Linked DNA regions of Homo sapiens: region 2 is linked to region 1. A link means that fine-mapping ties the variant in region 1 to the expression of a gene that starts in the linked region. Tissue or cell type: whole blood. Region 1 holds a variant in brackets; the other region holds the start of a gene. All regions are shown on one strand. Distances are from middle to middle.

Region 1 (4,354 bases):
CTAGAGTGCAGTGGTGTGATCGCAGCTCACTGCAACCTCTGCCTCCCAGGTTCAAGCGATTCTCCTGCCTGGGCCTCCCGAGTAGCTGGGACTACAGGCATTCGCCACCATGCCTGGCTAATTTTTGTATATTTAGTAGAGACAGGGTTTTGTCATGTTGGCCAGGCTGGTCTCGAACTCCTGACCTCTTTACAGAAAGCCAGATGCCTATGCTAGGGTTGTATTTAAAGTCCTTTTAGGCTGGGCACGGTGGCTTATGCTTATAATCCCAGCACTTTGGAAGCCGAAGCCGAACTCCTGACCCGCACTTAAGGTCGGGAGTTCGAGACCAGCCTGGTCAAGGTGGCGAAACCTTATCTCTACTAAAAGTACAAAAATTAAGGCTGGGTGCAGTGGCTCACACCTGTAATCCCAGCATTTTGGGAGGCTGGGATGGATGGATCACTTGAGGTCAGGAGTTCAAGACCAGCCTGGCCAACATGGTGAAACCCTGTCTCTACTAAAAATACAAAAATTAGCTGGGCTTGGTGACACACACCTGTAATCCCAGCTACTAGGGAGGCTGAGGTGGGAGAATTCCTTGAGCCCGGAAGGTGGAGGTTGCAGTGAACTGAGATCACGCCACTGCACTCCAGCCTGGATGACAGAGCGAGACTCTGTCTCAAAAAAAAAAAAAAAAAAAAAAGTACAAAAATTAGCCGGGTGTCGTGGTGGGCGCCTGTAATCCCAGCTACTCAGGAGGCTGAGGCTGGAGAATCGCTTGAACTCTGGGGCGGAGGTTGCAGTGAGCCGAGTTTGCACCACTGCACCCCAGCCTGGACGAGAGTGAGACTCTGTCTCAAACAAACAAAAAAGTCCTTTTAGTCATAGGAATAGCTATATATAATTTATTTTTTTGAGATGAAGTTTTGCTCTTGTTGCCCAGGCTGGAGTGCAATGACGCAGTCTCGACTCACCGCAACCTCTGCCTCCCGGGTTCAAGCGATTCTCCTGCCTCAGCCTCCCAAGTAGCTGGGATTACAGGCATGCGCCACCACGCCCAGCTAATTTTGTATTTTTAGTAGAGACAGGGTTTTCTCCATGTTGGCCGGGCTGGTTTCGAATTCCCAACCTCAGGTCACCCACCCACCTTGGCCTCCCAAAGTGCTGGGATTACAGGCGTGAGCCACCACGCCCGGCCAATATATATAATTTTTTTTTTTTAAAGCTCAGAAATGGAAATTCACGGATTCAGGGTAAAATGCAGCCATTGCTTCCTTAATTAGAAGAGTGTTTTTGTGGAAGAGTAATGGACTGTACCCTTTTTTCCCCAGAAAAAAAGCAGCACCTGAGGATTCTGAACAGTTCTCTGCTCAGTGATGATCAAGCCTTCCTTTGGACAAGCTTAAATAACTCAGCCACTGTTCTTTGTTGGAGGACTTTGGGACTACTGATGCAATGTGTCCACTTGGGGGCCCTTTGGAGAAAAAATTGCTAATTTCAGAGGGGCAGCCGCACCAGTGGTTAAGGAAATCCCTGGGGAGAAAATGTTTCTGTCTGGATTAGAGAGAAGACATCTTATTTACTCATTCAATCTTCATGATAATCTTGTGAAGCTATAATTAATATCCTTATTTTTGCAGATTAGGAAACTAAGACGTACTGAGGCTGGGTGCCTGGTTCAAGATCATATAGCTAACATTATTGGACATGCAAATCAAGCCCAGATTTGTGACTCTGAGCTGATGTTAATTCTGTCACAATATTGGTTCTCAAGATAAATCTTTCCAGGTGAGGGGGAAAGGGAATAAATATCTAGAAGTCCCCTTAAACAGAAGTAATTAATTCGTTTGCAGAAATTGGCAAAATTTGGGGTTCCCTTCTTAAAAGTTTCCTTCTGTCACTTGGAAAAAATTTAAAATATGTGCATTAGGTTGACAAAGATCAAAAAAGT[TA/T]AAAAAAAAACCCTTTTTGGAATGCTGTGGAGAAAGGAGCACTTTTATTTATCTATTATTTATTTTATTTTATTTTATTTTATTAATTAATTATTTTTTTTCTTTTTCTGAGACAAGGTCTCATCTCACTCTCTTGCCCAGGCTAGAGTGCAGTGGCCTGATCTCAGCTCACTGCAGCCTCAGCCACCTCAGCTCCACTAGCAGCTGGGACTACAGGCACATGCCAAGTTTCCCAGGCTGGTCTCAAACTCCTGAGCTCAAGATCCTCCCATCTCAGCCTCCCGAAGTCCTGGAATTATGAAAGAGGCACTCTTTTTTTCTTCTTCTTTTTTTTTTTTTTTTTTGAGACACTCTTCTCCGTCTTCCAGGTTAGAGTGCAGTGGGGTGATTTTGGCTCATTGCAACCTCCACCTCCCCGGTTCAAGTGATTCTGGTGCCTCAGCCTCCTGAGTAGCTAGGACTACAGGTGTGTGCCACCACGCCAGGCTAATTTTTCTATTTTTAGTAGAGACGGAGTTTTGCCATGTTGGCCAGGTTGATCTCGAACCCCTGACCTCAGGTGATTTGCCCACCTCTGCCTCCCAGAAGTGTTGGAATTACAGTCATGAGCCACTGCACCCAGCCAAAAGGCACTCTAGAACATTGCTGGTGGGAGTATGAATTAGCATAACCTTTACCGGGGACAACTTGGCACTGTCTATTAAAACTACAAATGTACATACCTTTTGACTCAGCAACTGCTCTTCTAGAAATCTATACTACAGATACATTTGAACATTTGCAAAATGACGTATATTAAAGGTTATGCACTGCAGCATTGTGTGAAATACATGCAACAGATTGGAAACAACTCAAGTGCCCACCGATAGAGAACTGATTAAAGTAAGCTCTATCTCTATTCCATACAGCCCCAATAATGAGGAAACTGTCTACTTATAGTAATATTTCCAAGATATAAGTGAAATAAGCAAGATTCAGGAAATTGGTTTGATATGCTTTTATTTATGCAAAAACTTCTATATGTGTATGCTTTTGTAGGCATAGACTATGTATGGAAGAATATACAATAGACTGATAACAGTTACTCCTACTAAAGGGTAAGTAATATTACTGAGGTTGGGGAGAGGATGATTCAGAGCAAAAATAAAGTGAGGACTTTAAGGACTTTAATTCCTTTAATTTTTTTTTTTTTTTTTTTTTTTTGAGATGGAGTCTTGCTCTGTCGCCCAGGCTGGAGTGCAATGGTGGGATCTAAGCTCCCTGCAACCTCTGCCTCCCAGGTTCAAGCGATTCTCCTGCTTCAACCTCCCAAGTAGCTGGGATTACAGGCACTTGCCACCACACCCGGCTAATTTTTGTATTTTTCATAGAGATGGGGTTTCACCATGTTAGCCAGGCTGGTTTCAAACTCCTGACCTCATGATTCGCCCGCTTTGGCCTCCCAAATTACGGAGTGAGCCACCACGCCCGGCCTCCTTTTAAATTTTTTTTTTTAATTTTTTTTTTTTAGAGATGGAGTCTCACTCTGTCGCCCAGGCTGGAGTGCAGTGGTGCGATTTCGGCTCACTGCAACCTCCGCCCCCCGGGTTCAAGTGATTCCCCTGCCTCAGCCTCCCGAGTAGCTGATTACAGGCACCCGCCACCACACCCGCTAATTTTTGTATTTTTAGTCGAGACGGGGGTTTCACCATGTTGGCTAGGCTGTTCTTGAACTCCTGACCTCAGGTGATCTGCCCAGCTCAGCCTCCCAAAGTACTGGGATTACAGGCGTGAGCCACCGTGCCCGGCCTTAAATTTTTAACCATATGAATGTATTAGGTATTCAAGAAAAATATGTTGAATGAAAATTTAAAATAAAAAATAAGTAAAGCACATCGAATTTAAGGTACCTAATGTGTAAGGCACAGAATGTCTTTTTTTTTTTTTTTTTTTTTTTGAGACGGAGTCTTGCTGTCGCCCAGGCTGGAGTGCAGTGGCGCGATCTCGGCTCACTGCAGGCTCCACCCCCCGGGGTTCACGCCATTCTCCTGCCTCAGCCTCCCGAGAAGCTGGGAATACAGGCGCCCGCCACCTCGCCCAGCTAATTTTTTGTATTTTTAGTAGAGACGGGGTTTCAGTGTTAGCCAGAATGGTCTCGATCTCCTGACCTCATGATCCGCCTGCCTCGGCCTCCCAAAGTGCTGGGATTACAGGAGTCGTAATGTCTTTTTATGATCAGCAGGATGGTTAACGGATATTTGCTGTCAGACCCCAGTGAGTTTTAGCACTTCTACTTACTAGCTGTGTGACTTTAGACATTATTCTAAGCCTCAGTTTCCCCATATGTAAAATCAAACTTATAGAATTGGAGAGAATTGAGTGCACATAAAGCACTTAGGCTCACAGAAAGCACTGAAAAATGTTATTATTAATATTTTCGC
Region 2 (4,000 bases), 130 kb before region 1:
ATTTGAATATTATAAGAATTTGATACTGTCACTCACCTTTTTAAAACTATTTGAATACTTCCTACAGCCCTAAGAAAATCCTTAAGAATCCCTAACATAGCTTGCAAATCCCTTCCCATCTGGCCCCTGCTGAGTTTCCTATCTCTTTTATTTTTTTCATTTTTATTTTTTGACAGGGTCTTGCTCTATTGCCCAGGCTGGAGCATAGTAGCACAATCATAGCTGACTGCAGCCTCAACCTCCTGAGCTCAAGTGATCCTCCCACCTCAGCCTCCCGAGTAGCTGGGACTACAGGTGAGCACCATCACATCCGGCTAATTTTTTGTATTTTTTTGTAGAGATAGGGTTTCACCATGTTGCTCAGGCTGGTCTTGAGCTCCTGGCCTCAAGCAATCTGCCTGCTTTGGCCTCCCAAAGTACCATATCTGGCGAATTTCTTATATTATTTCTTACACTCCTCGTTCTCCCTGTTACCTGCCGTGCTGGATTTTCCATTTCTCTTCCTCATCTCTGGACTTCAAACATGCTGCTGCCTCTATCTGGAATGCTTTCCACTCCACCTGGTTCATTGCTGTTCCTCCATCAAATTTCAGCTTAGATGTCACCTGCTCAGGGGGACCTTCTCTTCCCCATCCCACCCCAGACTATCTTAGATCCCTTCTATCACTCCCACAGCACCTGAACGTCTTTTTTCTTAGCATCAATCTCCTGAAGTTATCTGGGGGGTTTTTTAGAGATGGGATCTCACTATGTTGCCTAGGCTGGAGCGCAGTGGCTATTCACAGGCACAATCACACTCACTGCAGTCTCGAACCCCTGGGCTCAGTCAGTCCTCCTGCCTCAGCCTCCTGAGTAGCTGGGAATACAGGTGTACACCATCATGCGGGGCATGGTTATTGGTTATGAGGTTATCTGTTTAATCTCCACATTTCCTTTTTTATCCAAGAGGACTATTTATCTTGTTTCTCCTGTATTACTAGCACCCAGCATATAACTACAGTACAGTAGACAGAAAATATGTATTAAATAAGTGAATTTCATCAAAATGTTTTCTAGAGTCCCAGCTCTGTAATCTGCAACTTAGATAACCTGCCTGAGCCTTAGTTTGCTCAAGTATAAAATGGAAATAAAAATAAAAATAATACTTACCTTAGAGGGTCGTTTTGAGGATTAAATAAGATATATCAGAAAAGCTCTTAGAACGGTGCTTGGATATAGTAAGCATTTGATTAATGCATGCTTAAACATAAAGAAAGGTTACATCAATTCACACTCATACCAGCAGACTTTGACACTATCACTCTTTACCCTGTTCAACATTGAGTCTTGTGTTTTTAAATATTTTTGTAAAGAATATAGGTAAAAAGTGGCATTTTTTCTTTGGATTTAATTCTTATGGATTTAAGTCAACATGTATTTTCAAGCCAACAAGTTTTGTTAATAAGATGGCTGCACCCTGCTGCTCCATGCCAGATCCACCACACAGAAAGCAAATGTTCAGTGCATCTCCCTCTTCCTGTCAGAGCTTATAGAGGAAGGAAGACCCCGCAATGTGGAGGCATATTGTATTACAATTACTTTTAATGGCAAAAACTGCAGTTACTTTTGTGCCAACCTACTACATGGTCTGGACAGCTAAATGTCATGTATTTTTCATGGCCCCTCCAGGTATTGTCAGAGTCCTCTTGTTTGGCCTTCTAGGAAGGCTGTGGGACCCAGCTTTCTTCAACCAGTCCAGGTGGAGGCCTCTGCCTTGAACGTTTCCAAGTGAGGTAAAACCCGCAGGCCCAGAGGCCTCTCTACTTCCTGTGTGGGGTTCAGAAACCCTCCTCCCCTCCCAGCCTCAGGTGCCTGCTTCAGAAAATGGTGAGTCTCTCTCTTATAAAGCCCTCCTTTTTCATCCTAGCATTGGGAACAATGGCCCCAGGGTCCTTATCTCTAGCAGATGTTTTGAAAAAGTCATCTGTTTTGCTTTTTTTCCAGAAGTAGTAAGTCTGCTGGCCTCCGCCATCTTAGTAAAGTAACAGTCCCATGAAACAAAGATGCAGTCGGGCACTCACTGGAGAGTTCTGGGCCTCTGCCTCTTATCAGGTGAGTAGGATGGAGTGGAAAGGGTGGTGTGTCTCCAGACCGCTGGAAGGCTTACAGCCTTACCTGGCACTGCCTAGTGGCACCAAGGAGCCTCATTTACCAGATGTAAGGAACTGTTTGTGCTATGTTAGGGTGAGGGATTAGAGCTGGGGACTAAAGAAAAAGATAGGCCACGGGTGCCTGGGAGAGCGTTCGGGGAGCAGGCAAAGAAGAGCAGTTGGGGTGATCATAGCTATTGTGAGCAGAGAGGTCTCGCTACCTCTAAGTACGAGCTCATTCCAACTTACCCAGCCCTCCAGAACTAACCCAAAAGAGACTGGAAGAGCGAAGCTCCACTCCTTGTTTTGAAGAGACCAGATACTTGCGTCCAAACTCTGCACAGGGCATATATAGCAATTCACTATCTTTGAGACCATAAAACGCCTCGTAATTTTTAGTCCTTTTCAAGTGACCAACAACTTTCAGTTTATTTCATTTTTTTGAAGCAAGATGGATTATGAATTGATAAATAACCAAGAGCATTTCTGTATCTCATATGAGATAAATAATACCAAAAAAAGTTGCCATTTATTGTCAGATACTGTGTAAAGAAAAAATTATTTAGACGTGTTAACTGGTTTAATCCTACTTCTGCCTAGGAAGGAAGGTGTTATATCCTCTTTTTAAAATTCTTTTTAATTTTGACTATATAAACTGATAAGTCCTCTCTACTTCACAGATTAAGAAATTGATACTCAAAAAAGTTAAATAACTTGTTTTAAACCACATAGTAAGTGCCGAAGCCAATCTGTGAGACCAGGACTGTTTGTACTCTAAATGGCTGCACCACATGAGGCAAAATGGCTCGTGATGGTTTTATTTCAAAGACCTAGAAAACACTATCACAGCTGGTGCTCCCGTCTCAGACCCACAGCAACGATGTCTCCACTTCCTGCTTCATCTTGGGTTTCTCACGTCTTGAATGTGCACACAAATCACCTGGGGATCTTGTTAAAAATGCAGCTTCTGTTTCAAAAGACCCAGACTGGAAATGGAGATTCCGCATGTCTAGTACGCTCTCAAGTTTATTAATCTGCTGCTGGTCCTAGGAACATATTGAGTAGCGAGGGGCAGGATGTGACTCCTGTAAGGAGTGGCCAGGCATTTTCTTAGAGACCTGTGTTATAAAGTATGCTTTTCCTTAAAAAAAAGAAGAAGGAGGAGGAGGAGAAGGGCCAGGTGCAGTGGCTTACGCCTGTAAGCCCAGCATTTTGGGGGACCAAAGTGGGAAGATCACTTGAGCTCAGGAGTTCAAGACCAGCCTGGGCAAAGTAGTGAAACCCCATTTCTACAAAAAATTAAAAATTAGCCAGGCAAGGTGGCACACACCTATAGTTCCAGCTACTTGGGAGGCTGAGGTGGAAGGATCACTTGAGCCCAGGAGGTCGAGGCTGCAGTAAGCCATGATCAAGCCACTGCACTCCAGCCTGGAGTGTCTCAAAATAGATAAATAAATAAATAAATAAATAAATAAATAAATAAATAAAAGAGACAGTATCAAAGACCCAATCACCTCTAGACATCTGGCATCATAGGAATGTGCCCAGTCTGCTCTGGGGATAGGAAAGTGGGGATCCTGTCTCCCCCTGTGTAGAGGTTTCAGTAAAAGAAAGGCCTAGGTGTGCAGAAAGCTTTCAGGCAATGCCAGGGAAACTGATCATTGTAATGAATCCAGGGTATTGCTGAGTGAGGGCATCCTGGAGGGCCCGGTGGAAATGTGGTCAGGCTCTTCAATGCACAGGCCCTAGTTGATGAGTAATCAGGGTTTCAAATATTTCCATCTCTGTCTCAAGCAGAAAACAAATGGAAAAACTGAACCACCAGAAAAGCAGAGCCAGAGATGGAACAAGAATCCCAGTGTTTGTACCCA

Evidence for each region. PIP is the estimated chance that this variant, and not a neighbour inherited with it, causes the effect.
Region 2: it holds the start of CD3E, and the variant in region 1 is the best candidate, but not a certain one, in a credible set for the expression of CD3E in whole blood (INTERVAL, PIP 0.78).

Annotation. Positions count from the first base shown.
Region 1 is chr11:118,429,711-118,434,064 of GRCh38, forward strand. No RefSeq gene overlaps it. Among named protein-coding and RNA genes, the nearest start is that of KMT2A, 4.6 kb to the right of the region's middle. The variant TA/T (reference allele first, on the strand shown) is at 1,934.
Region 2 is chr11:118,302,911-118,306,910 of GRCh38, forward strand. It overlaps CD3E (CD3 epsilon subunit of T-cell receptor complex), which reads left to right and starts at 1,820. Exons shown (of 9, transcript NM_000733.4): 1 at 1,820-1,866; 2 at 1,984-2,091. The coding sequence starts at 2,043.